Linked DNA regions of Homo sapiens: regions 2, 3 and 4 are each linked to region 1. Evidence: fine-mapped expression QTL. A gene starts in region 1. Each other region holds a variant in brackets. All regions are shown on one strand. Distances are from middle to middle.

Region 1 (7,922 bases):
TCCAGGTTTGAACCGCGTTGGTCTGGATTTTCTTCTGTCTCTGCCACCCCCAAAGACAGCAACACCAACTCCTCCCTTCCTCCTCATCCTTAGCCTACTCAATGTGAAGATGACAAGGAAGACCTTCATGATGATTCACTTTTACTTAATGAATGGTAAATATGTTTTCTCTTCCTTATGACTTTCTTAATAACATTTTCTTTTTCTCTAGTTAAGAATATAATGCATATATAAAACATGTGTTAATCAACTGCTTATGTTACTGGTAAGACTTCCACTCATTAGTAGGCTATTAGTATTGAGTTTTGTAGGACTCAAATGTTATATACAAATTTTCAATTCTGAGGGGGGTCAGTATCCCGACTGCTCCATTGTTCAATGGTCAAATGTATTTATATATATTGAATAAACATATACATGTACGTATACTGATACATTCATGTATATGTGAAATTGTTAAATATCTTGGAAAATACAATTTACTACAACTGACTCCATAGGAAAACCTAAATAGTACTATAATCATTAAAATCTTCTGAAAAAATACACTCCAAACACAGATGATTTTACAGGTGATTCAAGGAAATATTCAAGGACCAGATAATCCCAATCTTGCACAAATTCTTCCAAAGAATAGCATAAGGGAGAATACTATTCATATTATTTTATGATAATACCAGCATCAGAAAAGGATAGTACAGAAAAGTATAATTACATGCCAATCTTAAATCACACGTATAAATATAAATATCCAATGTTTACCTTTTGTATCTATATCCACATACAGAAATTACTACATATTTACCACAAAAGGTTTATTCCAAGAATACAAAATTGGTTTAATATCAGAAATTAAATACTATACTTTACTATGTTGTTAATATAGTTAAAGGAAAAAAAGTATATATATTCTCAACAGCTACAGGAAAAGCATTTGAAAAAACATCCATTTATAATAAAAGTGCTTACCAAAAGAAGAACAGAATTTTCTTATGATGGGGAAGACATTTACAAAGTAACTATAGCAAATGTCATTTTTAAGTTGACATAATGAAATATTTCTCATTATTATCTTAAGGACAAAACAAGATGCCCTTTATTACTTTTATTCAACAGTGTACTGGAGCTCCTAGTCATTGTCATAAGACAGAAAAAATAAATTGAAGGTATGAGAATTAGAAACGAATAAACAAAATTATCATTATTTTCGGATGATATGATTGCCTATGTAGCAAATCTGAAAGAAGCTACAGGTAAATTTAGAATTATTAATTTTCTCAAGTTTGATTGATATATAATTAATATATAAAAGGCAACTGAATTTCTGTATGCCAGCAACAATAAACTACAAAATATAACTTTTACAAAAGAAAATGCTTACAATAGCAGTAAAAATATGACGTGCCTAGAAATTTAACAAAAACTGAGCCAAAAGAAAACAATAAAAAATAGTACAAAACATTGAAGATGACTTAAATAGTGTCATATACCATGTTCATTGAGGAAAAGGGCCAATGTCTTAGAAATAATTTCTGCCCAAAATAATTTATAGAGTGCAATGGTTTGAATGTGTCCCTCAAAAAGCAGGTGTTGGAAACTTAATCCCCAATGCAATGGTGTTAAGAGGTGGGCTTAATGAGAGGCCATCAGGTCATGACAGCAGAGTGAATGAATTAATGCCATCACTGTAGGAGTGAGTTCATTATAAAAGGCGGCATTCACCCTCCTTTTACACTCTCTTTCAGCCTTTCTCTGCCTTTATGCCATGGAATGACACAGTAAGAAGGCTCTTTCTTGCCAGATGCCAGCCACTCAATCTTGGACTTCCCAGCCTCCAGAACTGTGAGCTGATAAATTTTTGTTCCTTATACATTACTCAGTCTCAGGTATTCTGCTATGGTAGCACAAAACAGACTAAGACACAGAGTTGATCCATTATCAATCAGAATTCCAACAGGTTTATTTGCTTGTTTGTTTCTTGTTTTGGAGAACTTGATAAGTTTATTTAAATATTTATATGGAAGGTCAAAGGTCCAAGTAAAGCTAAAACACTCTTAAAGAAGAAGAAACAGGTGATAGGACTTTTCCTACCAAATTTCAAGGCTTTTAATAAAACTATAGTGGTTAAAAATTATTTAGTATTGAGGCAGAGTTAGACAAATAGAAAATAAGAATGGGGGCTTAAAACGAATTCATGCTTATATGGAAATCCTGATTCATGCAAATCACTGGTGCTGGGGCAACAGATTATCCATATGGAATAAACAACATAAAAATCAGTTTCCATGTGGATTAAGACTAATTGCCAAAGGCAAAACTATAACACTTTTAGAAAACGATACACTAAAATTAATCTATGATCTTGAGAAAACAATTATCAAACAAGAAAAGCTATAAAAGAAAGTACTACTAACTTGAAATTAAATTCAAAACTTAGATTCATTGATAGAAACAGAGAAAGAAACAGATATAAAGACATAGAGAGAAAGAAAACCTCAAAAGCAAATTGGAAAGATGTCTGTGGCATATATAGCTAACAATTACTGCTTCGTACCCAGATTATATAAAGAAAGCATTCCAATGAGTCAATAAAAAAGGTAAACAAACAATCCAATACAAAAATGAAAGAGACAGGAATCAGAATTTCACAAAGAGAAAGCACTGATCAACATATAAAAAGTCAATCTCATTAGTTATGGAAAATGCTAGTTAAAATCACAGTTAAATGCTATTTCATACCTGCCAGACTGACAAAAAATGTAATTTTACAAGACTAAGCTGTGGCAAGCATGTAGAGCAACAAGAATGCTCATCCACTGCTGGAGGGAGTGCAAACTGGTTTAACACTTTGGAAAGTTTAGAAATGACCCAATAAAATTGAATACACATAAATCTTATAACTCCGCAATTCTACTCCCAGCTATATACTCTAGGGAAGCTCCCACACAAGTGTACTTGAATATTAGAGGACATGGGCAGGCTTTAAAGTGGCCCCGATAATCCCTGCCTCCAGGTGTTCATGTCCTTGTGTCACCCCCTTCCCTTCAGTGTGAGTTGGGCCTAGGGACTCACTTCTAATGAATATAAAATGGCAAAAATAATGGGATGTCGCTTCTGAGGTTACAGAAAGAATCTGACTTCTGTCTTTCTCTTTTTCTCTGTGGGAGCCTTCTCTCTGGGGGGAGTAAGCTGCCATGTTGCAACCATTCTTTATACAGAGGCCCATGTGGCAAAGAACTGATGTGTACAGCCAGGGTCAGTGAGGCCAATCGGCCTGCCAGCAGTCATGTGAGTAAGCCTGGGAGAGGTCCTCGACCCTACGCCTAGCCTTGAGATGACTGAGGCCCAGTCAATACCTTGATTGTTGATACAGCTTGTGAGAGACCCTGAGTCAGAGACTCCCAGCTAAGCCCCTCCTGGATTCCTGATCACAGAAACTGTAAGATAGGAGGTAACAGGACTTGTTTTGTTTGTTCGCTTTGGTTTGAAGCTGCTAGGTGTTGGGGTAATTTGTTACATAGCTTATAGATAAATCATACACCTCCAAAAGTAGAAACAATCCAATGTCCATCAGCAGTAGAATGGATAAATTATGTACATTTACACCTTAAATGACGAAAACGAAAATGGAAGGAAGCATGAAAGATGAATCTATAAAACTTAAGAATACGTACAGGATAATGTCATTAATATAATGTCATTATAATGAGAAAGCCAATACATATGTTTTAGGAATACACACACAAATATGGTAAAACTAAAAAGAAAAGCAAGGGATTCATTAAATTAAGACAAAAATCACGAAAGATGTCACATCTCAGAGAATGGAGGAGAATGGACCATGGGCATCAGTTGGGACTCATGGGCTTCTAAGGTACTGTGACGCCCTATTTCTTGACCCAAGGAGATGGTCAGGCATTCGTTTCATTATTTTTTAGACCATTCTGAGATATTTCATTTACTTTTTATTCAACATTTTAAAACAAAGTATTGAAACCAATTCATCAACAAATCACTAGTTTGGAGGATGAAAGTGATGGACCGATGGTTGGCTGGTCAGCTAGACAGACACATTCTGTCCTTTACGTCTAGTTCGAGCTGTACTTCTTCTAAATTTCCATGATTATCCAATTGGCAAAGATCTTTTTCTCCTGTACTTAAGGCCTTCTTCCGTTGCAGGTTGGGCCAAACTAGCGGCCAGCTCTCGGCTGTTTACCAGGGAACTGTATCACCCAGCACTTGCTGCTTCAGGCCAAATGCATTCCAGACTAACATTCAGCCTGAATCCCCGCGCCGCTCTCACCGCCACCCCTCCCCAGGTCCCTTCCCCCACCACAAACCCACACTGCGCCCGTGGGCGCCTAGAGCACTGGGGTGGATGAGAACTTCCACCTGGGCTTAACGGAGACAAGCTAGCCTAGAAGAATGCAAGCCCCCAGCTGGCGAGATCAAATCGCCTCGAGGGTTCCTGCTAGCTCAGATCTTAATGGCTCCTTGCGGAGCAAAAAACAAATCCTACGAAAATAGGGGGGGTCATCGCCTCCTGCCCAGCAGAGGGCATAACAATGCGGCGAGAATGAAATAGGCACCGAGCTGCAGAGAAAAATCATCAACGGGGTAGAGACGAAGGAAGGGATCCTCGGTGGAACGGCTCTATCACCTGGGGGCGCGCGCAGAGGCCGCAATCCACGCCCGGCCCTCCCCAGACGCTAAACGTCGCACCCCGCCCACCGCTCCCCGCCCCGGACACTAACCCGGGGCCCAGGCCTCGGTCACCGCGGGCCTCTCCTGGTCCAGAGTCTACGCTGAACCCCACTCACTGTTTGCCCCGCTGTTCCCTGCAGCGCGGGTTCGGGGCAGTAGCAACCTGCTAGGAGCGGGAGGCGGTTGTTCCCAGGAGGAAGCAGCTTCTCCGCCCAGGAGGCAAAGGGCAGCGGGCTCGAAACTACAGGACTTGGAAAGTCTTAGGCGGAGACTGCGGGGGTGGGGGGTGGTGAGGAGGGGCCTTCCAGGGAGCTGATTGGTCGACGCGGACGGGGGCGGGACTTGGCCGGCGCCGTCCCTCCCCTAGACCTCAGAGGCCCTGCCCGCAGATGTGGCGCCAAATCCCGGATGCAGGCCTAGGCGCCAGCCCAGGAATATAGGGAGCAAATTGTTAAGAACAAAACAAAACAAAACAAAAGTGAGAATACTTCTGAACAAGTGACGGCCTTGATAAATAGCGAGAGATGTTTATATAAAATAATACAGGACTATTTTTAAGGACGAGTGAAATCTATCGGTTCTAGCTATAGTTTTTAATTAAAAAAGCAAGTTGTATTAAAATGGAGAGTAGGATCTCTCTTTCCCCCTCCCCTCCCCTCCCCTCCCCTCCCCTCCCCTCCCCTCCCCTCCAGGGGGAGGGTCTGCTTCTGCCACCCAGGCTGGAGTGCAGTGGTGCCATCACAGCTCACTGCAGCTTCAACCTCCCAGGCTCAAGCGATCCTTCCACCTCAGAGGCTGGGACCACAAGTGCGCCGCCACCACGCCCAGCTAACTTTTTGATTTTTTGTTAGAGACAGGGTTTTACTTTGTTGCCCAGGCTGGTCTCGAACGCCAGGGCTCAAGTGATCCTCCCGCCTCGGCCTCCCAAAGTGCTGGGATCACAGGCCTGAGCCACTGCATCAGCTTTAGCATTACATTCGTGTATGAAGAAGACATGCTGCATGTGCTTCTATAAGAGGCGGGGCTAACGGTGGAGAAATTGTCTATTGATTCTTACCTTCACAACCACTGAATTGTTTTTTTTTAAACCAATACATTGTTTTTATAAGTTTAATAAAACAGTAAGGCGTTGAGAATGTTACTAACCAATCAACAGATGACAGATATTGGGCATGAGGGAGGAAAGAAAGAAAGGAGTAGCAGGGAAAAAGCCTGGACTTTGAAGCCACCACATCCTCTGCTTACAAGTTGGGCAGTGTATTCATTGCTAAGGCTGCTGTGATAAATTTTCACACATTTAGTGGCTTAAAACAACACAGATTTACTACTATCTTCCAGGACTGTAGGTCCTGGAAGTCCAGCACAGGTCTCACTGGGCTATCATCCAGGTGTAGGCAGGGATGTGTTTCTCTTTGCAGGATCTAGGGACAAATCTATTTTCCTTGCTTTTTCCAGCTTCCAGAGGCTCCCGCATTCCCTGGCTTGCAGCCCTTTCCTTCATCTTCAAAGTCAGCAATCTCATGGCTCCAGCCTCTGCTTCTGTGTCACATCTCCTTCTTTGAGTCTCCTGCTTCCTTCTTTCACTTAGAAGGACCTTGTGATTACATTGTGCCTATCCAGATAATCTAGATAATTTCCCATCTCAAGGTCAGCTAATTAGCAGCCTTCATTCTGTCTGCAACCTTAATTCTCCCTTGCCATGTAGCATTGCGTATCACAAATTCTGGGAATTAGGATCTGGACATCTGTATTAATCCATTTTCACACTGCAGATAAAGACATTCCCCAGACTGGGCAATTTACAAAAGAAAGAGGTTTAATTGGACTCACAGTTTCACGTGGTTGGGGAGGCCTCACAATCATGGCAGAAGGCAAGGAGAAGCAAGTCACATCTTATGTGGATGGCGGCAGGCAAAGAGACAGCTTGTTCAGGGAAACTGCCGTTTTTAAAACCATCGGATCTCCTGCGACCTCTCCACTATCATGAGAACGGTTGGGGAAAGACCCACCCCCATGATTCAATCATCTCCCACCAGATCCCTCCCATAACACGTGGGAATTATGGGAGCTGCAAGATGAGATTTGGGTGGGGGCACATAGCCAAACCATATCAACATCTTTAGGGAGCTATTTTTCTGCCTATCACAGAGGGCTTGTTAACTTCTATCTTAGTGTTTTCATCTGTAACATTGGGGATAATAATTGTCTCTACTTCATGGAATTTTTATGAAGATTAAATGACTTAATACAGATAAAGCTCTTAAAGCAGTGTCTGGCACATGGAAAACCCTATGTGAATGTTCACCATTACCAGAGAATGGACAGATCCTTCCAGACTTCTTCCATGATTTCCTTGGCCCTTGTCTCCTTTGCTCTTCAAATCTCCAAGTTGTGTGTTCTCTCCTCATTTCCCTGCAAATCTAGTCTCCCCTCAAAACTACATAGGCCTAGCCTGAGATTGGAGGGCAGACATGGATGGGACTTTACTTCTAAGAGATTTCTAGAAGTGAATGCACCCAGCTACTAGCACAGAGGCATAGTTTATGACTACTATGGTGAAAGGAAAAACCAGCGTCTGGATGTGTTTGTGCGGTTAAATGGGGTGTCTGGGGGGAAACTGTGGGGGCAGGTGGGTGTTTGGGGATTGTAGACTGAGTGTGTCTGAAAGACCAGGATTGCTTGCAGTTACCTCTCTTTCTCATTCTCTCATTTCTCATTCTCTCTGCCAAGACAGCTGCACTTCTCTCTTGCCAGATCCCTTCTCCCCTCAGAAGCTGACAGTCAACAGGACATAAGCTTGCCCACCCCCACTCCCTCTCCAGGCACACAAGCAAAACCCACCATTTTTAGTTGCTGTTGTTTTTGCTGTGCAATTGGTCATAGAATTTCAGAGCTACAACATCTCATCCACTCTCCTCCTTTATATTAATACAAAAAGGAACACTGAAATGCAAGCAGCAGAAGGGGTTTGCAGCAGGTAGAGGTGGAGCATGACCTTGGAATTCAGATGCCAGCGCTCTTGCAGTACAAAGTCCTTGAGGCTGAGATCACTGGCTAGTCCTCTCGGCGCCTCATGTTTCTGTGTGTGTGTGTGTGTGTGTGTGTGTGTGTGTGTGTGTGTGTGTGTGTTTGTGTGTGTATATGTTTTAGGGTATGGAAGGACACGGAGCCAGTGCAGCAGAGAAAACCCCTTCACCAGCAAGCACACCAAGACTCCT
Region 2 (7,922 bases), 170 kb before region 1:
ATCCCTGCCCCCTCCCCTAGCCCTGCATTGAATGTCGATGTTTTCGAGTTGTCAATGTTGTTCCCCTTTCAGATCTCCTGCAATGTCTCCCACAGCTCTATGGATAGGAGCTGTCTGGCCCACTTTTCACAGAGGCACACACTATTTTAAAGAATTTAAGCAATCTCTCCAGTAGCCCCCATTTAAGTGAAGGACCTAGAACTTAAAATCAGGACGTAATGACAAGCCCCAGGCTTTCGCATTGCCATACCCTCTCTTAGTTTTTTGTGCCTTTCACTAATTTTCTGAAGAGTGAATGTGAGACAGTCCCAGTCAATGAGGTAACTTTGTATTGCATTCATTTCCATATCCTTAGATAGCCAGTCTGGGGGTATACGGGACCACTGACCACAATGGTAGGTTGCCCCTAAACTGTAAGTTTAAGCCCTAATTCTGTCCTAGTCTGCTACCTACTCACTGTGGAGCCCCGAATATCAGTTCTCAATAGCTCTAGAGAGACCAAGTCTGAGACTTGGCCTCAGGATAAACAGGCACCTTCTGACTCCTCTTCCTGCTAGAGGGCTTCTCCCCAGCATCCGTGCCACTGCTGCCTTAGCTCAGGCCTCGTTAGTCTTCCCTCAGTGTATTCCAGTAGCCTTCTAAGTTGTCCCAGCATCTTGCCTCAATCCTCTATGATCCATCTTCCTTACACTCCTTCCAAAATAATGTTAATACTCTGTCTATCAAATGCTTACAGTGTTCTCTAGCACATATAGGGTAAAGTCAAAGCTCATTAGCAGGGCATAGGAGGCCCTTCATGACCAGCCTCACCAGCACCTCTAGCTACATCTCCTACTGCTCTCACCTCCACATTTACCCTTCGGCATGCCAACCTGCTTATGGTTACGGACACAGCTTGCTGTTTTGGCTTCTGTGCCTCCCCTTGTTTGCTTCCTGCTGCTGAATCATGCTGGAACATCTTGTCCATTAGCTGTCAAGTCACCTGTCCAAATTCAGCTCTGTTGGCCCTTTCTCTCCTGGACATCGCCTCCTTGATAAACCAACAGTTTTAGCAATGTGTTTATTTACGTGTGTTTCTCCCTTTGGCCAGTGTTCTCTAGAAGGACAAGAGCTCTTAATGATGTTTGCCTAGCACAGTAGCTGGCGGTGTGTGGGTGTCTAATACATGTTAAACGTTTAATAAATGCTTAATTTATTGATGCATTGATTAATAAGTGTCAAAGAGCAAGCCAGTGAGAACAGATGAGCAATAATAAGGATACAACAGTGAGACTCTGAGGTAGGCTTGGCTTCGGTGGTGTTATCTGTCTTTGGGCTTTTATGAGCTACAGTCAGAGAATGCTCATCTATTAAAGGGAGAGTGGGGATGTGAAACCCCAGATCCCCGCTAACTGGAAATTTGTATAATCTTAGTAAACAAGGGCCTTCTGCCAAGGGCTTTCCGGAGAGCTGCCCCTTATGAAGTATGAGCCACTCTCATTAGCTGCCCCTTATGAAGTATGAGCCACTCTCATTTTTAGCCCCTCGAGACAGGCTGGATTTTTTTCTTTTTCTGCCCTAAATGCAGTGTTCTACAGAGCAATTTTGTATCATTGCAGATAGCCACAGGTCCAAGATGGCTATTAAAAAATAAGGATTATTATGATGTCTGGAAAGTATAGTATTGGAGGTTCGCAGCTTTTAGAATCTCAATAGGCCAGATATGTAGGAAGTGAGGGTTTCTCATCTCAGTCAGGCCCAAACCTGTCCTGATGCTGAGGAAAACACTTGAGATCTGGGAAGACAATTGTTTAAAGATACTAATAGTGGACATTTATTGAGTATTTACCTCTATTCAGACATTAGGTTTCCCCTGAGCACCCCCACTAGATTCAGGGGGTGTTGTTTTGTGGCCAAGAGGAGGAATGAGCCAACAAGATTGCATTATTGTGCAGGGGCAGAGTGGGGAGATAGGGGCACATACCCAGGATGAAGGTAACGATTGAGGGGAGGTGATCATGTGAATGAAATATATTTAAGAACGCACATGTCACGTCACTTTTGCAAACTTGACACCTCATTCTGTTCCTTCTTTCCCTTTTCAGCTCCAAGAGGCCTTCGGGTGGGAGCCATTCACCCAGCTCTTTGCTGAGTACCAGACCCTCTCTCACCTCCCCAAAGACAACACTGGCAGGATGAATCTATGGGTGAAGAAGTTCTCTGAAAAAGTGAAGAAGAATCTGGTTCCCTTCTTTGAGGCCTGGGGCTGGCCTATCCAGAAGGAGGTGGCTGACAGCCTGGCCTCCCTACCAGAGTGGCAGGAAAACCCCATGCAAGTGTACCTCCGTGCCAGGAAGTAAAGGATGCCCCACAAGGCGGGAGAGAAAAGGCAGGGTCACGCCATCAACTCCACCATGGGGCTTTGGCCGTGTGCTCAGTATCTGGAGCCTGAATCCCGCTTCCAAGCCTGACCACTAGATGGTGGCCACGGTCATAAGAAAAAATGGAACCCCTTTCTGTAAAAGGTGCCTTGTGCTTCTTTTTATTGTTTTTCTGCCTACGCTATTGCTTTCCCCAAGAGACTCACTTCACCTCTTAGTCTTCCAGAGAGGATCTTTCATCCTGCCATCCTGAGGCTTCTATTTTTGACCAATAGCTCTAAAGACCACGGGTTCCCATAACAACCTGATATCCCTTTCTCATCCCTGCCATCCCTGAATAAGGCTTCTAATTTATTATGCTTTAACAAGTTTTCAAATAGCAAGCGAGACACGCTGGAATAGTGGAGAGAGCCCCAAACCAGCTTTGGTTCTATGGAAAATCACTCCACCTCTCTGTGTTTCTGTCTTCACATCCATGACATGAGGATACAAATCTTTTCCTCACAAAGCTGTTGTTTGATTTCTCCTGGTCCCATAGTGGACTGTTAACGGTGTCCAGTCTAGCGTGCACATCCTGGGTGCTGAATCTCACTTCAGTGTTGACCCCCTTGGGGTTAGCATTCAGTCCTTGTATATTTAGAGAATGTCAATGTTTTCCCAGACATGGTATCAATAATGGTAGTTGTCAGCAGTATCTTAGCCCTTTCTACATTTTTTCTCCCACTTCTGGAAGGATTCTTGGGTATAACCTAACCCAAAGAAAAGTGGCATGTGCTGAAACTGAGTGTCACAGAGCTGTGAGGTTGGGTCTTTGGGATTAGCTTCATTTTCCAGGGTTTGCCCTTTGCCCTTCAACCAAAGGACAAAGTCATGTTAACAGCTGCTACTAAGTCTATATGCCCATTCGTTCATACCACAAAACAGGCATCTGACTCCTCTGGTCACCATGGAATCAAGGCACTGTCAAGTGGTGGGGGGTCCACAGGCACAGTGGGCTTCACTCTGGAACAGGATTACTGGGTGCAGCGGATGTAATCCTCACTTAATCAACCCACACCCCAGCATCCCCTGAGCTTTCTCTTAATCTCATTCTAGCCCATCTTGACTCTTCGGTTAGAGGGAGTTCTCA[T/C]TGGAGATTTGTCTCTGGGATTAATGAGTGTATGCCTAGCTACTTTCTCCAGTTTACTTTTAGACCATATTGTTGTTTGTTTTGAATATCATTCCTTAGGCTATGTTGAGAGTAGAGTGGCTTCCCATTAGGAGAACTAATTTAGGGCATGTCTTTTGCTGAATCCCGTCAGCATATTTAACAAATTCCCAATTCTAGATAATTTCCTTTTATTTCTCTAGTACCCTTTGCCAGGGGCTCTACACATCAAAGGTGTTCATGAAGTATTTGTCAAAGGAAAGAACAGTAATGACACCTAACACATAATGAGTGATTAGTATGTTCCAGGCATTGCGTGAGCTATTTACTGTGAGTGATTTAATGTTATCTTCCCAGCAGACCTCTGAGGTAGGTACTAGTATGATCCCCATTTCGTACATGAGGAAACTGACACTAAGGGACATAAAATAAGTTTTTTGAAGTCACAAAGTGAATAAAAGGAAGAACCAGGGTTTAATTGAAGCCCATAGCAATGAAAACATTGTGGAACTTATTCTTCATGAATGGTTTACAATTTAAACAAAATGTCACCTAGAAAATAGATGAAAATATGTTCAACCAGGTCTGGATTTTTCCAATGTTTACTACTGAATTTTCATTCAATAACAAGTTTAACTTCCAAAAAGGTGTTGGTATCTGATTTTCTGCCTGCCTCAGAATGTGATTTGTCTGCCTTTGGGTCATCCAGCCTTGGGTAGAGAAGGAATTTGAACTCAGGAAATTCAACTCCAGAACTGATGTTCTTTTTTTTTTTTCATTTAAGTTCTGGGATACATGTGCAGAACGTGCAGGTTTGTTACATAGGTATACATGTGCCATGGTGGTTTGCTGCACCTATCAATCCATCATCTAGATTTTAAGCTCTGCATGCATTAGATATTTGTCCTAATGCTCTCCCTCCCATTGCCCCCAACCTCCCGACAGGCCCCAGTGTGATGTTTCCCTCCCTGTGTCCATTTGTTCTCATTTTTCATCTCCCACTTATGAGTGAGAACATGTGTTGTTTGGTTTTCTGTTCCTGTGTTAGTTTGCTGAGAATTATGGCTTCCAGCTTCATCCATGTCCCTGCAAAGGACATGAACTCATTCTTTTTCATGGCTGCATGGTATTCAATGGTATATATGCCATATTTTCTTTATCCAGTCTATCATTGGTGGGCATTTGGGTTGGTTCCAAGTCTTTGCTATTGTAAATAATGCTGCAATAAAAGTATGTGTGCATGTGTCTTTATAGTAGAATGGTTTATAGTCCTTTGGGTGTATATCCAGTAATGGGATTGCTGGGTCAAATGGTATTTCTGGTTCTAGATCTTTGAGGAATCATCACATTGTCTTCCACAATGGTTGAACTAATTTACACTCCCAACAACAGTGTAAAAGCATTCCTGTTTCTCCACAGCCTCACCAACATCTGTTGTTTCCTGACTTTTTAATGATCGCCATTCTAACTGGCATGAGATGGTACCCCATTGTGGTTTTGATTTACATTTCCCTAATGACCAGTAATGATGAGCTTTTTTTCATGTTTATTGGCCACATAAATGTCTTCTTTTGAGAAGTGTCTGTTCATATCCTTTGCCCACTTTTTGATGTGTTTTTGTTGTTGTTGTAAATTTGTTTAAGTCCCTTGCAGATTCTGGATATCAGAACTTGTCAGATGGGTAGCTTGCAAAAATTTTCTCCCATTCTGTAGGTTGCAGAACTGGTGTTCTCAACAGTGATGTTAGGGTAAAATGATGGATACTGCTGGGTTTAATAGATTGCCCTAGAAACAGAGACAATGTCTGGCTTCTTACACACACACACACTTCCTGGTAGAAGTTGGAGCCTGTAGCTCCTTGTCTCTCATACAGAGAGACTGTGACTTTGCCTCTTGTTTTTAAGTTGATAGTTAATTGTAACTGCAGTATTCTCAGATTCTTTTGTCTATTCACAGAAACTAATTTGCTGCCAGTGATAGGGATGATCCATGATTTCTGAGACATTTACTTCCATAATTTCACAGTTCTAAGTCTAGAAAAATTATTAGAAGAAAATTATTGGATGGTCTTGGAACCAACCCAAAGAAAAAAACATGTCCTGTGAACAGTAGGATAGATACTGAATGTAGCTTGTCTCACTTTGGAACTAGTGCTTATAATTTCCCTTGGACTGTATATTTTTGTCCAATCACTACTGTACAGGACATGGGTTTGGTTTGCTTTTCCCTCCCATGAGCCACTCAATTGCTTTGCTAAAAGCCCCATCAGTTTTCCTTTGGTTTCCTTTGGTACACCAACATCAACACAGAGTCCACTTGGTTTGGAAGGGGTTGGCCCACACTGTTGGCAGGAGTGGGCACAGAATCCATGCTCATCTAATTGTCCATACCTTCCAACAAGGATTGGTTCAAGTGATGGGAAGGTGGCCCTTGCCAGGGTGATGAAGTGCATACGACAGACTTTTACTGGCTGTACTGGGAAGCATACATTTTCTTTGGTACTGGAGAATTGGTAATGACAGTGCCAAATGTTGTTTGTTATTGAAGCTAAGTGAAGGGGCTCTTGAAGGATCCTTATTCAACTTTTGCCTATGTTTAGAAATTTTGTAGTAAAATTGTAATGGTGTAAGTCTACTATTTATACCTATAGAAGTAAAAGACTTTTGCCAGGTGCAGTGGTTCACGCCTGTAATCCCAACACTTTGGCAGGCCGAGGCGGGTGGATCACGAGGTCAGGAGTTCGAGACCAGCCTGGCCAATATGGTGAAACCACATCTCTACTAAAAAAAATGCAGAATTAGCTGGGTGCAGTGGCTCATGCCTGTAGTCCCAGCTACTCAGGAGGCTGAGGCAGGAGAATCGCTGGAGGTTGCAGTGAGCTGAGATCGCGCCACTGCACTGTAGCCTGGACAATAGAGTGAGACTCCGTCCAAAAAAAAGAAAAAAGAAAAGAAAAAAAGAGAAGTAGAAGACTTGTTTTTTTTAAGTTTTGAAACAATTTCTTAGGGAGAGTAGGATTGAAAGAGTAGAGAAACAGGGGAGATAAAGACAGAGTAGGGTTTGGGCAGATTCCTGTTGTTTTTCTTATAAGCTCTTTGTTAGTAATTTAATATTGTATTTCTACCACATATGTTTTCTACCCTATGCAAGCATGACACCTTTTAAACAAGATAGATATAAACTGTATTAAAATTTACAACACAGCTTGCATGCCAACATAGTCTTCCATGATTTGGTCTCTGCGAGTGTTTCCAGATTTGCCTCCCACCTCTATCCCTTGCTTTCTTTATTCCAGCTGTGATGCACACATTTCAGCGTGAATGCGGCCCTCCTTCTCATTTCTACAGATTGTTCTGTGCTCCTGGGTCATTCCTTTCTTCCACCTGTCCTTCCCTCCACTTCACAATAGAATAGAGAAGTTTCTGATGTTTGGGCTTCCTTTTGGGTAGAACAACAACAAAAGTCAACTAGAAAAATGTCCTTTTTTAGAGTTATATTTTCAGAGTGAGGACTCATTTATCATTTATATTTATCATAAGAAATTAAAACATTTTCACTTTTTGTTTTTTCCTGTTAAATCTTTAAGTATCTTTAACCAGGACTTAATTAAACTTGAATGGTCTGCAATCTTTTTCAAATGTGAATAATTTCAATGTATATTTTCTCCATTTGCTAAATTTGGTAAAATAGTGTTTAGTGTTGTATTTTTAATAAAACAAAACCTGCCCTGTGGAGAAGGGACACACTTTGTGGACGTGCCATTTGGGTCACACACAAAGGTGGGCCACTGGGGTGCCACCACTGAGCCAGCCAGGATAGCAAGAGCGACATTCTCTAATTCACACAGAGGCATTTTATGAGCTAGTGGTGGCCTTGGAGAAGGGACGGCACTTCTCTATATTACTTTGGATTGGGGTATCAGTATTTTTAAGGTTTTCTTTTTTTCTTCAGCTCTTAACCCAGAGGTCATTTCCTCGAGCCGTGTCTCTAAGCCTCATGTTCCGATAAAACCTGTAACTTCCTTTATATATCAGTCATCACATTTGTAATTATTTGTTTAAAATCTCTCTTTCCCACTACATGGAAGCTTCATAGGGGCAGGGACTAGACCTACCCTATTCACAGCTGTATCTACAGCCCCAAGGGCAGGGCCTGTCACATATCAGTTTTGGTGTAGGGGTCTATTGTATTAACACATTACTAACAAGAGTGTATGATAATGGGAGAAGACTAGATGAGGATTTCCAACTATTGTATATGTTTGCTGTCTTTAGGCGGATCACCTGAGGTCTGGCGTTCCACACCAGCCTGGCCAACATGACAAAACCCTGTCTCTACTGAAAATACAAAAATTAACTGGGTGTGGTGGCACATGCCTGTAATTCCAGCTACTTGGGAATCTGAGGCAGGAGAAT
Region 3 (7,922 bases), 34 kb after region 1:
TGGATGGAATGCTCTGTATATGTTTGTTAGGTCTATTTGGTCTAAAGTGTTTTTCATGTCTAATGTTTCCTCATTAATTTTCTGTCTAAATGATTCTTCCATTGTTGAACCTAGTGTATTGAAGTCCCCTACTGTTATTGTGTTGCCGTCTATCTCTCACTTCAGATCCTTTAATATTTGTTTTATTTATTTAAGTGCTCCAATGTTGGCTGCATATATATTTATAATATTTATATCTTCTTGATGAATTGATCCTTTTATCATTATATAATGCTTTTCTTTGTCTTTTTTTTTTTTTGAGATGGAGTCTCGCGCTGTCACCAAGGCTGGAGTGCAATGGCGCAATCTGGGCTCACTGCAATCTCCGCCTCCCAGGCTCAAGTGATTTTCCTGCTTCAGCCTCCTGAGTAGCTGGGATCACAGGCACATGCCACTGTGCCCAGCTAATGTTTGTATTTTTAGTAGAGATGGGGTTTCACCATGTTGCCCAGGCTCGTCTTGAGCTCCTGATCTCAGGTGATCCACCCGCCTCAGCCTCCCAAAGTGCTGGGATTACAGGCGTGAGCCACCGCACCTGGCCTTCTTTTTTTTATAGTTTTGACTTAAAATCTGTTCTTCTCATATATGTATAGCTACCCTCGCTGTATTTTGTTTTCTATTTGTGTGGATTATCTTTTCTCATCTCTTCCCTTTCAGTCCATGTGTATCCTTAAAAGTGAGCAGAGTCTCTTGTAGGCAGCGTATAGTTGAGTCTTCTTTTTTTTTTTTAATCCATTCAGCTACTCTATGTCTTTTTTATTAGAGAATTTAGTCCATTTTCATTTGAAGTAATTATTGATAGGTATGACTTACTACTACCATTTGTTAATTGTTTTCTGGTTTTTGTTTTTTTCTGGTTCTACTTTTTTTTTTTTTCTTCCTCTCTCTCTTGCTGTCTTCCTTTGTGGTTTGATGATTTTCTGTAGTGGTATGTTTTGAATCAATTCTATTTTTGTTTTGTGCTTTGACTAAATATTTTTGCTTTGTGGTTACCAAGATGCTTACATAAAATATCTTACAGTTAAAACAGCCTATTTCAAGCTGATAACCACTTAACTTTGATTGCATCCAACAACTTTACACTTTTAGTCCCCCAGCCACATTTTATGTTTTTGATATTGAAATTTACCATTACTTTTTTTTTTTTGATACCATGTTTCGCTCTTGTCATCCAGGCTGGAGTACAATGGTATGATCTCAGCTCACTGCAACCTCTGCCTCCTGGGTTCAAGCAATTCTCCTCCTGTGCCAGCCTTCCAAGTAGCTGGGTTTACAGGTGCCTGCCACCATGCCCAGCTAATTTTTGTATTTTTAGTAGAGACAGGGTTTCCCCATGTTGGCCAGGCTGGTCTCAAACTCCTGACCCTCAAATGATCCACATGCCTCAGCCTCCCAAAGTGTTAGGATTACAGATGTCAGCCACTATGCCCGGCCCAGAATTTACCATTGCTTTTAATGTGTATCTTTCAGTAACTTATTTTAGCTGTAGTTGTTATTAGTAATTTTGTCTTTTAATACTTGTACTAGGGATATAATTGCTTTATACACCATCATTACAGTCCTAGAGTATTCTGAGTACGGCTCTGTTTTACTTATATTACTGAATTTTCTATTTTTGTAAGTTATATGTTATTAATTAGTAATATTTTGCTTCAGATTGAATAACTTTCTTTAATAATTCTTATAAGGCAGACCTAGTGGTGATGAGCTCCCTTAGCCTTTGTTTGTCTGGGAAAGTTTTTATTTCTTTTTTATTTCTGAAATGCAGGTATTTCTGGGTAAAGTATTTTTGATTGGCAAGTTTTTTACTTTCAGCATTTTGACTATATCATCCCAATCTTTCCTGGCCTGCAGGATTTCTGCTGAGAAATCGGCTAAGAGTTGTATTGAAACTCCTTTTTATGTGATGTGTTTCTTATCTCTTGATCCTCTTAGAATCCTTTTCTTTTTGTCTTTGAGTTTCAATAGTTTGATTATTATGTGTTTTGCTGAACTCCTTTTTGGGTTGAATTTGATTGGAGATCTTTGAACTTCTTGTGCCTGGATGTTGGTTTCTGTCTCCAGATTAGGGAATTTTTCAGCCATTATTTCTTTAAATATGGTTTTTGCCCCTTTTTCTCCTTCTCCTCCTTCTGCAACTCCTATTATATAAAGGATTGGTCTCCCATAATTCCTACAGGCTTTCTTCGTTCTTTTTCATTCTTTTGTCTGTTTGCCCCTCTGACTGGATAATTTCAAATGTTCTTTCAGCTCACTGATATTTCTTCTGCTTGAGTCTGCCATTGAAACTTTTAATTGAATTTTTCAATCCAGTCTTTTTATTCTTCATCTCTAGGATTTCTATTTGGTTCTTTTTTATTGTTTCTATTTATTTGTAAAACTCCTCATCTTGTTTGTGTATTTTTTTCCAAATTTTTTAAAATTTCTATTGGTACTTTTTTTTAACTTAAGAGGATTATTCTGAATTTTTTGTCACCCCATAAATCTCCATTTCTTTAGGGTCCATTATTAGCCCTTTATTAGTTTCTTTTGGAGGTGTCATAACTCCCCAGTGCTTTGTAATCCTTGTGTCTTTGCATTGTTATCTTTTCATTTGAAGAGATACCCCCTCCTTCTGGCCTTTACAGGTGTTCTTTGGCAGGGCTAGACCTATACTATTTAGTGTAGCCTGTAATTCTTCAAGGGCCAGCTGGTAATGGCCCTGGGCAAGCAAAGCTAACTGTGGATTTTCTACCTGCCTGGGATGCTGTCTTTGCTCTGATATTGGCTGGGGCTATTGACTGGGCCCTGCTGTCTGGCAAGACCACTGGCTGAGCTCTGTTATCACACAGAGCTACTGACTGCGTACTGCAATGGCTTCTGGTCAGACTAGTCACAGAATTTATTCCCTGGCTGGAAAATTATGCTTTCTGGGATTTGCAGTTGGGCAGGGCTGTAGGCTGAACTCCAAAGTTAGGAGAAGTTGCTGCTTAGAATGATTGAGGCCAGAGGCTACACTCAGAAAAACACAATTGATGGTTGCTTCCCTGTTAAGGTGGAGCTTCCTTGTAGGGTTTCTTCCCTTTAAGATGGGCTTTTGGCTGAATTGAGTTTGACTTCCCAGGTCAAACAGTTCTAGCCCTCATGCTTCTCTGAAAGGCATGTAGATGTCCTTGATGGGGCCTTTTAGCTGAGTAGAGCCATGGATTGACTTCCTGGGTTAAGCAGGTCTACCTCATGTGTGTTTCTGAAATGGGTGGAGGTGTGTATCTCCTTGTCTTGGCAGAGGTCACTGGTGTGGGCTCTGAGACTGGACATGGGGACTAGCTATCTAAGGCCTCAAGCTAGGTTGTACTTCCCACCATGCTTCTGAAGATGACCAGCTTAGCTTTGTAAATGAACTATGAAGTTGACTAGTGTCTCAGATTGGGCACCACAGCTAGCAAGAACACAGAGGTAATGCCATGATCTGTGTGCTGGTCACTAAGACCTCTGCCTCCTTTCTTTGTTTTTACTTGACACCAGGTAGTCTAGCTATGCTGTTACCCCCAGTGTTCTCCATGAGATAAGCCCAGAGTGGGATTTCTGAGAAGCATCTTGGAAAACTAGAGATGCTGAATGACTGCCTCTAGTTTTCCTTTCCTCCTGTAAAAACCATGGGCCCAGGAAAACCCTCTTTGTCTGGTGTTGTGTTGACTTTGGCAGGAGGCAAGGTGGCAGGGTTGAAGTGAAACTATGCTTCTTAGCCTTCTAATTCAATTTTCATTCCACGTACCTTGTGGTTGTCTCATGTTAGTGTCCAAGTAGTGGAGTTTTAAAAGAGATATTCTGGTCTGGGGATAGTTGCTAGTTGAATGTTCTGTGGAGAAGAGTAGAGCCTGGGACTTTCTATTCTTCCTTTTTGCTGACATCATCAGAAAACAAACTCCCTGCCCTGGATACTGAGGTAAGCTAGTAAAGAGGTAAAGCTTCCAAAAATTGCACTGCATTATCTACAGGCTTTAACTGGCTTATTTGAGTCCACATCATGTCCTTATGAAAGCACTACTGTCTCTCTAATGCAAAGTAAATATAGTGTATGTTGGAAACAAGCCTGTCATCTTGGCCTTGTGAATTATCTAAAATATTTGGCCAAGGCTGGAATGTCGTATACAGTATGCATTCCTAAGAAGTTATTCTTATGATTCTTTGATTCAACAGCTTCTGTTTTTTTCTGACTCTTTCTACAGATTAATATTCCTCACATTTTTAAATGGAAATAGATAACCAGACGTGGGTGAGAGAATTTATTCTCCTTGGCTTATCCAGTGACTGGTGCACTCAGATATCCCTGTTTTCCCTGTTCTTGGTCACATACCTCATGACAGTGCTGGGGAACTGTCTCATTGTCCTTCTGATCAGACTGGACAGCCGACTCCACACTCCCATGTATTTCTTTCTCACCAACCTCTCCCTTGTCGATGTCTCCTATGCCACAAGCGTAGTCCCCCAGCTGCTGGCACATTTTCTTGCAGAACATAAAGCCATCCCATTCCAGAGCTGTGCAGCCCAGTTATTTTTCTCCCTGGCCTTGGGTGGGATTGAGTTTGTTCTCCTGGCAGTGATGGCCTATGACCGCCATGTGGCTGTGTCTGACCGCCTGC[G/A]ATACTCGGCCATCATGCATGGAGGGCTGTGTGCTAGGTTGGCCATCACATCCTGGGTCAGTGGCTCCATCAACTCTCTTGTGCAGACTGCTATCACCTTTCAGCTGCCCATGTGCACTAACAAGTTTATTGATCACATATCCTGTGAACTCCTAGCTGTGGTCAGGCTGGCTTGTGTGGACACCTCCTCCAATGAGGCTGCCATCATGGTGTCTAGCATTGTTCTTCTGATGACACCTTTCTGCCTGGTTCTGTTGTCCTACATCCGGATCATCTCCACCATCCTAAAGATCCAGTCCAGAGAAGGAAGAAAGAAAGCCTTCCACACGTGTGCCTCTCACCTCACGGTGGTTGCCCTGTGCTACGGCACAACGATTTTCACTTACATCCAGCCCCACTCTGGTCCCTCAGTCCTTCAAGAGAAGCTGATCTCTGTCTTCTATGCCATTGTTATGCCTCTGCTGAACCCTGTGATTTATAGTCTAAGGAATAAAGAGGTGAAGGGGGCCTGGCATAAACTATTAGAGAAATTCTCTGGGTTAACATCCAAGCTGGGAACTTGACTCATGAACATTACTTTAAGAAGAAGCTTTGCCTCATTTTTCTCCACCCAGCTCAGATATGGCAGGGATAAACTATGTTGCTCTGGCAACCGGGAAGGAGATGATGTAACATGTACTGGGGATGTTATGTAGGAGGCTGAGTGGTTGAGTTGGATGGGGTGTGGGATGTGGGGATAATTTTATATCCCAGCAGTATGATTAGTGGAGTTAGCTACTGCTGTAACAGAACCTTCCACAATTTCTCAATCTCCACTCTTATGTTCTGATAAAAACTGAAAAAAAGTACTACTTACTGTTTTGGTTTGTCACATTATTTATAACCGTAGACCTATTCATACATCTTACCTTGGACCAGTGGTTCTTATTTATTGACATTTTGTAAAGGTTGTAGTGTTTGCATTGAAAACAAAATGCATTTTCACATTTGAAGACTCACTGAAAATAATTGGTTGTTTATGTAGCCACATACAATAATTATGAATCAACATTCCGAGAAGGATGTTGTTTGTCAAGGCTTATTAAAATGATTTTGTGCAGGACCTTCGAAATGTGAACAAAATGTCTTTCTCTGAGTGCTGGAAGTAATTCAGTGAAGAAATATCAATGAAAGTTCTTATTTTGCCCTGATAGGGTTAAAAAATGGTTGTTTGTAATGAAGACTATTATTAGCCAAGGAAAATTTAAGTTTCAGGCATTACTCACAGCACTCAGTTTGAGAGAAATTTTACTGTATAAGAGGTATCATTTAACATATTAAAATTGTCCAATCTCAGGAAAATTCACAAACTCCATTTTTTAATGTTTAGAAACAAAATAAGCAATAAATTATGAGATAATTTATAAAACATCAAAGACATAGTTAATCTAAGAAATGACACTCTTCAGCCAATACCAATGAAAGAGAAGACAATTTTAACATGAATTTTGAGGAGTCAGGATAGATGCCTCACCTGTGCAAATGTTACCTTCAAGCTTCCATATTAAGGACTTTTCTTATTTCTTCTCACACATACAGTAGGGCACTAGTCAACTTTCTAAACCTAGTCATCTGAGCTCGAGAGTGGGCCTCACTGCTGCTAAAATTTATAAATAATACAAAAGAAGAAGAAACAAATATATAAGGTAAAGAAGGGGAAAGAGGAGAAAAATTATGATAGTAGCTGATCATCTCACTTGCTTGAAGTAACCTAAGTCGTGTCTCTTCTTTCAGTAAGTTAATTTTCTGTTCTTCCATTGGTGACCACGTTGTCACAGATCCTCAGGTATTTATGAAGGTTCATATAATCCAAAGCCCTTTTGAAATATCAGTTTTACCTTAATTACTATTCTATCTTAAATTTTGCAAGGTAGGCAAGCATCCCCAAAAATGTCAATGGCAGCAAACTAAAATTTCTATTGGTGTTAACTTAAGCATTATCAATGGAGTGTCTAGTACGTGTCAGTGACAATGAATGGTTCTGGAGACTCTGTAGTGAATATGATACAATTCTGGGTTGCATAGCAGGGATGATGGATAATGAAGCAATTATAAAGTAATGTTGTAAATATTACAGATAGAGTAAGCCCATCAGGGGTGTCACAAAAGTCTTCCTGTTAAAAGAAAACAACATAAAATGTCTAGATTGAGACCAGGAAAGTGAGAGCAAGTTATCCAGATGAAAAGGAACTGGAGGAAATGAAAAACCTGAGCCAAAGTGCAGAGGGCGAGACTTGAGTATCCAGAAATATCTGGAAGCTGCACTTGTAGGGCAGAGAAGAGTGAGGAAGTAGTGAGAAGTAGTGAGGATGAAGTGGATGGGTAGGTATGCATTGGTTCATGGCGGGCACTGAATGCCACATTATCTTTCAACTATATCCTAATAGCAATGGGAAGTCAGTAATGATTTTTTTTTTTGACAGACTTTTGCTGTGTCTCCCAGGCTAGAGTGCAGTGGCGCGATCTCGGCTCACTGGAACCTCCGCCTCCTGGGTTCACGCCATTCTCCTGCCTCAGCCTCCCTAGTAGCTGGGACTGCAGTTGCCTGCCACCACGCCAAGCTAATTTTTTGTATTTTTAGTAGAGATGGGATTTCACAGTGTTAGCCAGGATGGTCTCGATCTCCTGACCTCGTGATCCACCTGCCTAGGCCTCCCAAAGTGCTGGGATTACAGGCGTGAGCCACTGCGCCCGGCCAGAAGTCAGTAATGATTTTTAAGCAGAAGAATGGCTTGATAAATTTTACATTTCTGAAATATCACTGGCAAATGAGATAGAGGAATAAAAAATTGGAAGCAAGAAGTCAATCTAGTGGGCTGCTCCATTAATGCCATTTAGACACTAGAGGAATCTGAACTAAGGGTGTGACAGTCGTCTTAGGCCTGCAGGGCTGAGCTCAGCAGGCTGGGTGAGCATAGACAGGTCAGTTCACGGTAAATATCAAATGGAAAAATGTGGAGATCACTGAGTTTTGAAGCATAGGTGCAGATAAAAGAGGAAATTGCATCATTATCATTATAGTAAAAATTTCAAGGCTGCTTACCCAGACATTAGGCCTTGATGACCTAGTTCACTAATTAGAAAAGTTATTGCTGTATACGGTGTAATGTTGAAGATACTGACATGAATGACTCACTCTGTGTGGGCTTCAAGGATCATTGACTTATGATGAGCTTTAATGAAATACAACGTGTCCCCTGCCTATATTTCAACCTATTCTTT
Region 4 (7,922 bases), 160 kb before region 1:
ATGGTGGCAGGTGAGTGATGAGAGAGCAAGAGAGAAACTACCAAACACTTAATAAAACATCGGATCTCTTCAGAACTCACTCACTATCACGAGAACAGCATGGGGGGGAACTGGCCCCCATGATCCAATCACCTCCAACCAGCTCTCTCCCTCAACACCTAGGTATTACAATTCAAGGTGATATTTGGGTGGGGACACAAAGCCTGGCCATATCACTCTCTGTTGCTAAAAAAGAAAAACTTAGGTGGAGATTTGGAAATTAAAGTCCAGTGTAATTGGCCCCACTGTGGAGAACCAAGCCATGCAAGGACACTCACAATGATGAAAAAAAAATTCTCAGCACTTAGGTAAGGCACTCAGTTGGAACAATGCTTTCCTGGGTCTGCAGACTGGAACCTAAGCAGCTGTGTGCTTCACTTAGATAAATACATATTCAATGCATGAGACTGATTCACCCTCACAAATGATACTTCTTTTAATAGGATCATGCAGTCTACTCCCAGCCACATAGTTTTTGTCTTAAATAACAAATCATTTGAACAGGTAGTTAAAATGAGGACCATTCAGGTTTGAATTAGTAAAGTTACATATGGGAAGATTCCGTGAATTATTGTAGCAGACGGGAGTTATAACAAAAAATATATTGTGCATTTATATAATTTCATAATCCCATTCAAGCAATGACCCTAAAAATCTATTTTCCAGACCACATTTACTCCCAAGGATATCAGTGTAAGTTAGGTGAATCATCAATAAACCGCTTCTTTTCAGAAACTGTTTTAAGTGCTTTTATATTTATTTATGCTCACAACATTCCTACAGAGTAAGTACAATTACACTCTTCATTTTGCTGAGAACTAGTAAGCTGTGAAGCCACATTTCCAACCCTAGAAGTTGGAGCCCACACTCTCAGCCAGCATACTGTCCTATGGAGTTACTGGATCTGCCATCGCCTGTAACTCTGCCTGCATTAGACTATGTGTCTGAATACTGAATCACAGAGCAAGCAGAGTCCAACTGCCAAAACCAATCAGGTTATTCCTAGTTACACAAAAAGCAGTTACTTTACAGTAAAGGTCATTCATCCAAGGAACACTTCGCTCAGGATATACAATTGATTTTTTTTCCAATACCAAGACCGTGTCCAACCTAGACTGGAGGGTTTTAAAGATTCTGCGATTCAAAATAAGAGCTTGATGGAGTCTTAGAGGAAGCAGGTCTTACACTCAAGGTTTTTATCCTTTTTAAGGATGCCCCAACTCCTCTCATTATGTCTAAAAGCATTGGATAAGGGACCACATACGTTCCCATAGGTTATTAGCTCCAATAGCTGTAAAATCTAAATTCCCAACAAACTGGAGACATTTCAAGAGGCAGAAATCACCCTAGAATACTTTAGGGAAATAATAATGGTCACTTTTAAGTTTTAAAGAAGTGGGTTTTTATTGTTGTTGTTGGTGGTGGTGGTTTTGTTTGTTTTTGAGATGGAGTCTCGCTCTGTTGCCCAGGCTGGAGTGCAGTCATGAAATCTCAACTCACTGCAATCTCTGCCTTCTGCATTCAAGTGATTCTCCTGCCTGAGCCTCCCAAATAGCTGGGTCAACAAGTGTTTGCCACCATGCCCAGCTAATTTTTGTATTTTTAGTAGATACAGGGTTTGGCCATGTTGGTCTCGAACTCCTGCCTCACATGATCCACCTAGCCTCGGCCTCCCAGAGTGCTGGGATTGCCGGCATGAGCAACAGCGACCAGCCTTAAAGATGACCCTACCTTTATTTAAAATGACCCTGCTTGTATTTCCTCCCCTGAATGCCTTAAAGTCCCTGACTTATTTGAAAACTTAGTATTTCGAAACAGTTTCAGAAAAAATTAAAGCCTTAGTGGTTGGTCACACTAAATGGGACCGTCAAAGCTCCTACTGCTCACAAATATTGTTAAAATGGAATAACACGCACTGCTAAAGGGAATTAAAGTCACTCCTATCTTGAATGAACCCTCGACATTTTAAGTTCTGTGTCCTCTGCATAGAATCTTTGTTCTTTGTCTCTCCCTTGTGGCCATTTAGAAAACCTTTCAGCTCCTGATCACCAGTTGAAACAGTGAAATTGTTCCCATTGTGGCAAACACAGTCTCTTGCCGTGGTTTTAATTTAAAAGAGATATTTATGTTACCCTTCCCATGAAGCAATTGACTGGTCAATATGCTCTCTACTTGTGTTATCCATAAAAATTTCCCAAACCAATTTACTTTTAGTGTCAGAAGATGCAACCCAACAATATTCTTTTTTTAATGAAATACACTGTGCTCATAAAAAATGTATCTAAAAGCATATGTACAATTTAAATAATAATTAGAAAGGGAACAATCAGATCAGCAACAGATTAAGAAATAGAATGTTGCCAATAATTGAAGTCCTCCATATGTTCCTCCAAGTTCATTGTCCCTCTCCTACCACCAGATGGAACACTAATCTGACTTCTGTGATCATTCCTTTTGCTCCTTTAGTTTTACTACCTATGTGCACAAACTTAAACTACATAGTTTAGTTTTAACTTGTTTTAAACTGTATAAGAATACAAGAAAGTTATATTATATGTAATCTTTTATGACTTGCTTCTTTAGTGCAATACTGTGACATCGTCTGTGTTGATTTGTGTAGCTCTACTTCATTTTTCTTTCTGCCTAATACTCAGTTATATAACTATAATACAATCAGTTAATCTATTTTGCTGCTGATTGGTTTTTGATTGTTTTTATTTGGGGCCTATCTGATACTACAAACATCCTTTACATGTATATCTGTGCGAGAGTTTCTCTGGCATACCCTAGGAAAGGAATTGCTGTATCGTAGAATATGCATAGCTTCAACCTTCTTAGATAAAACCAAGCTGTAGATAAAGACAAGTCAAAGATAAATCATATCACTTAGAGTATATGAGTTTCCATTGCTCTAGATCCTTAGGAACACTTGATATTATGAAATACTTTTTTTTCCAAAGTGATGAGTGCATAGTAATATATTATTGTGGTTTTAATTTGCATTTTCCTCATTACTAATGATGTTAAGCAGCTTTGCATATATTAACTAAACATTTGATTTTTGCTTTTATTTTGAAGTGCTCATTCCATTTTCTTGTGTATTTTTCTATCGGATTTTCTGTATGTCACAATGTTTTAGATATATAAACTTGGTCAGTTACATGTGTGGCCAACAGCTTTTCCCACTCTGGGCCAATTTTCACTCTTCTTGTGGTGTATTTTAATAAACACAACTTCTTAATTTTAAAGTAGTCAAAGTTATTAATCTTTTTTATGATTAATACTATTTGTACCATGAGTAAAAAAAATTGTTTACCCAAATTCCACAAAGAGATTTTTCTATATTATCTTCAAAGAGTTGTATAAATTTTTAAGTTTAAATGAGTTTTGGGCATAGTGAACTAGGAATACAACTGTAGTTTTTTAAAATATGGATTCCTAATTATAGCACTGTTCATTGAAAGGTTCACTCTTTCTGCCTCATCTACGGGGCCAAAAGTCTGGATCTGTGTGGATCTCTTTGCAGGCTCTCTATTCTTTTCTATTTTTTTTCTTCATCTCTATGCCAATGCTATACTATTGTAATATCTTCATAATAAATCTTGCTAATTATTCTACCTTAGTTTTTGTCAAGAACACACAATTATTCTTGGTTGTTTGTGCTTCCATTTAAATTTTTAAACCAGCTTGTTGCATTCCACTAAAACAAGTGAGTAAACAACTACAATAATGAAAAACCCTGTTGAGATTTTGATTCTAAGTAATTTTTTAAGAATATGCATCAATTAGTGGAGACTTGAATTTTTTTTTTTTTTTGAGGTGGAGTCTCGCTCTGTCGCCCAGGCTGGAGTGCAGTGGCACGATCTTGGCTCACTGCAACCTCCACCTCCTGGGTTCAAGTGATTCTCCTGCCTCAGCCTCCCGAGTAGCTGGGACTACAGGTACCCACCACCATGCCCAGCTAATTTTTGTATTTTTAGTATAGACAAGGTTTCACCATATTGGCCAGGCTGGTCTTCAACTCCTGACCTTGTGATCCACCCACCTCGGCCTCCCAAAGTGTTGGGATTACAGGC[A/G]TGAGCCACTGTGCCCGGCCGAGAATTGATTTTTTAAAAATTAGTTTTCCAGAGGGGAGGAGGCAAAGCAAGATAGCGGAATAGAAGGCTCCATTGATAGTCTGCCCTGCCACCACAAGGACACCAGGTTAACAACTATCTACACAGAAAAAATACCTTCATACGAACCAAAAATCCGGTGAGCCCTCATAGTACCTGGTTTTAACTTCATATGGCTGAAACAAGCACTGAAGAGATAGAAAAAAAACAGTCCTAAATCAAGTATGCCACCCCTCCTGCACCCTTCAGCAATCATGGCGTGGTGCAGAGAGCGTCTCTAGGTGCTGGGGAAGGAAGAATACAGCAATTGTGAGGCATTGAACTCAGTGCTGTCTTGTTAGAGCAGAAAGGAAAACCAGACCAAACTCAGCTGACACCCACCCACAGAGGGAGCATTTAAACCAGGCCTAGCCAGAGGAGAATCACTGATTCCAACAGTTAGAACTTGAGTGCCTGCAAACTTCACCACCGAGGGCTATAACACTCTGTATCTCCAAGTAAACTTGAAAGGCAGTCTGGGCCATAAAGACTGAAACTCTTAGGTGAGTCCTGGTGCTGAACTAGGCCCAGAGACAGTGAACTGGGACTGCATGTGGCGTACAGAAACACTAGCTGGGGCAGCTAAGGGAGTGCTGGCTTCAACCCTCCCATAAACCCAGGCTGCACAACTTATGGCTCGGAAAGACCTCTCTTTCTTCCAGTTGAAGGTAGGAAAAGGGAGAGTGGGAAAGACTTTGTGATGCACCTAGGATACCAGCTCAGCTACAACAAAACAGGGCAACAGTCAGAGTCACGAGGTCCCCACTGCAGGCCCTAGCTTCCAGATGACATTTCTACACACACCCTGGGCCAGAAGGGAACCTGCTGCCTTGAAAGAAAGGACCCAGTCCTGGCAGCATTTATCGCCTGCTAACTGAAGAGCCCTTGGGCCCTGAATAACCAGCAGCAATACCCAAGTACTACACCAAGGGCCTTGGGTGAGCCTTTGAGGCTTGCTGGCTTCAGGTGAGACTCAGGATATTACTAGCTGCGGTGGCTCTGGGGCAAAACTTCTGCTTGAGAAAAGCAGAGGAAAAAGTAAAGGGAACTTTGTTTTGCACCTTAGGTACCAGCATGGCCACAGAAGGATAAAGAACCAGTCAGGCTCTCGGGGTCCCCAATTCTAGGACTTGACTCTTGGACAGCATTTCTGGACCTGCCCTGGGCCAGAGGAGCACCCACTGCCCTAACATGGGAGTCCCAGGACAGGTAGCATTTATGACAAGCTGACTTAAGAGATCTTGGGCTTTAAGGGAACTTTGGTGGTAGTCTGGCAGTACTCCTTGTGGCCTGGGTGGTGGTGGCTATGGGGTGAGGCTCCTCTGCCTTTGGAAAGGGGAGGCAAGAGTGGGAAGGACTGCATCTAGTGGTTAGAGTGCCAGTTCAGCTGCAATACAAGAGAGCACCAGGTAGACATCTAAGGGTTTTTACTCTAGTCCCTGACTCCCAGATGGCATTCTGGACCCACTTCTGGGGCTTAGGGGAGCTTGCTGCCCTGAAGGGAAGGGCATAGGCCTGATTGGCTTTGGCATTTACTGATTGTAGAGTCCCAAGGCCTTGAGGTAATGTAGGCAGTAGCCAGGGAGTGGTTACAGCAGACCTTGGGTGAGACCCAGTAAGCACTGGGCTGGCTTCAGGTCTAACCCAGAACAGTCATAGTGGTGGTGGCCAAAGGGGTGCTTGTGCCACTCCGCCCCCAGCTTTAGGTGGCACAGAACAGAGAGAGAGAAATTCTGTACATTTGGGAGAAAGTAAGAAAAGAGAATAAGAATTTCTGCCTGGTAATCTAGAGAATTCTCCTGGATCTTGTCCAAGACCATCAAGGTGGTACTTGTACAAGTCTGCAAGAACCATGATGTTACTGGGTTTGAGATGCCCCTCTAAAGTAGATACAGTTTGGATCACAAGACTCAAGTCCTTTCAGGCATCTGGAAAGCCTTCCCAAAAAGGACAGCTACAAGCAAACCCAGACATTGAAGACGACAATAAATGCCTAACTCTTCAATGCCCAGACAATGAAGAACATCCACTAGCATCAACACCATCCAGGAAAACATGACCTCACCAAACAAACTAAATAAGGCACCCAGGGCCAATTCTGGAGAAACAGAGATACGTAAACTTTCAAACACAGAAATCAAGATAGCTGTGTTGAGAAAACTCAAAGAAATTCAAGATAACACAGAGAAAGAATTCAGAATTCTATCAGATAAATTTAACAAAGAGATTGAAATAACTAAAAAGAATCAAGCAGAAATTCTGGAGCTGAGAAATGCAATTGACATACTGAAGAATGCATCAGGGTCTTTTAATAGCAGAATTGAGCAAGCAGAATAAAGAGCTAATAAACTTGAAGTCAGGTTATCTTGAAAAAACAAGACCCACTCATCTGTTGCCTACAAGAAACACACTTCACCTATAAAGACACACATAGACTGAAAATAAGGGGATGGAAAAAGATATTCTATGCCAATGGAAGCCAAAAAAAGAGAAGAATTCACTATACTTATATCAGACAAAATAGATTTTAAGACAAAAACTATAAGAAGGGACAAAGAAGGACACTATATAATAACGGAGGGCTCGATTCAGCAAGAGGATGTAACAATTTTAAATATGTATGCACCCAACACTGGAGCACCCAGATATATAAAGCAAATATTATTAGAGCTAAAGAGAGAGATATGCCCCAGTGTAGTAATAGCCGGAGACTTCAACACCCTACTTTTAGCATTGGACAGATCTTCCAGACAGAAATCAACAAAAAAAAATCAGACTTAATCTGCACTATAGACCAAATGAACCTATTTACCCAGTAGTCATTTAGGAGGAGATTGTTCAGTTTCCATGTAGTAGTGTGGTTTTGAGTGAGTTTCTTAATCCTGAGTTCTAATTTGATTGTCCTGTGGTCTGAGAGACTGTTTGTTATGATTTCTATTCTTTTGCATTTGCTGAGGAGTGTTTTACTTCCAATTATGTGGTCAATTTTAGAATAAGTGCAATGTGGTGCTGAGAAGAATATATATTCTGTTGATTTGGGGTAGACAGTTCTGTAGATGTCTATTTGGTCCAGAGCTGAGTTCAAGTCCTGAATATCCTTGTTAATTTTCTGTCTTGTTGATCTGTTTAATATCCACAGTAGGGTGTTAAAGTCTCCCACTATTATTGTGTGGGTGTCTAAGTCTCTTTGTAGGTGTCTGAGAACTTGCTTTATGAATCTGGGTGCTCCTGTATTGGTGTATGTATATTTAGGATAGTTAGCTCTTCTTGTTGCATTGATCTTTTTACCATTATGTAATGCCCATCTTTGGTTCTTTTGACCTTTGTTGGTTTACAGTCTGTTTTATCAGAGACTAGGATTGCAATCCCTGCTTCTTTTTTGCTTTCCTTTTTTCTGGGTAGCTTCCTCCATCCCTTTATTTTGAGCCTATGTGTGTCTTTGCAAGTGAGATGGGTCTCCTGAATACAGCATACCACTGGGTCTTGACTCTATCCAATTTGTCAGTCTGTGTCTTTTAATTGAGGTATTTAGCTCATTTACATTTAAGGTTAATATTGTTATGTATGAATTTGATCAAGTCATTATGATGTTAGCTGGTTATTTTGCCTGCTAGTTGATGCAGTTTCTTCATAGTGTTGGTGGTCTTTACAATTTGGTATGTTTTTGCAGTGGCTGGTACTGGTTGTTCCTTTCTATGTTTAGTGCTTCCTTCTGAAGCTCTTATAAGG

What was found. PIP is the estimated chance that this variant, and not a neighbour inherited with it, causes the effect. A credible set is the group of variants that fine-mapping cannot tell apart.
Region 2: its variant is the best candidate, but not a certain one, in a credible set for the expression of TCAF1 in whole blood (TOPMed, PIP 0.53).
Region 3: its variant is the best candidate, but not a certain one, in a credible set for the expression of TCAF1 in whole blood (INTERVAL, PIP 0.88).
Region 4: its variant is the best candidate, but not a certain one, in a credible set for the expression of TCAF1 in esophagus mucosa (GTEx, PIP 0.58).

Annotation. Positions count from the first base shown.
Region 1 is chr7:143,897,207-143,905,128 of GRCh38, forward strand. It overlaps TCAF1 (TRPM8 channel associated factor 1), which reads right to left and starts at 4,970. Exons shown (of 9, transcript NM_014719.3): 1 at 4,755-4,970. LOC105375549 (a long non-coding RNA gene) reads left to right here. Exons shown (of 3, transcript XR_007060574.1): 3 at 6-4,747. RefSeq lists enhancers at 3,938-4,475, 4,151-4,200 and a silencer at 4,991-5,130.
Region 2 is chr7:143,725,329-143,733,250 of GRCh38, forward strand. TCAF2 (TRPM8 channel associated factor 2) reads left to right here. Exons shown (of 8, transcript NM_001363538.2): 8 at 2,085-5,082. The coding sequence ends at 2,339. Among named protein-coding and RNA genes, the nearest start is that of CTAGE6, 28 kb to the right of the region's middle. The variant T/C (reference allele first, on the strand shown) is at 3,490.
Region 3 is chr7:143,930,963-143,938,884 of GRCh38, forward strand. OR2F2 (olfactory receptor family 2 subfamily F member 2) reads left to right here and starts at 4,271. Exons shown (of 1, transcript NM_001004685.1): 1 at 4,271-5,224. The coding sequence starts at 4,271. The coding sequence ends at 5,224. RefSeq lists an enhancer at 4,620-5,119. The variant G/A (reference allele first, on the strand shown) is at 4,662.
Region 4 is chr7:143,735,173-143,743,094 of GRCh38, forward strand. No RefSeq gene overlaps it. Among named protein-coding and RNA genes, the nearest start is that of CTAGE6, 19 kb to the right of the region's middle. The variant A/G (reference allele first, on the strand shown) is at 4,116.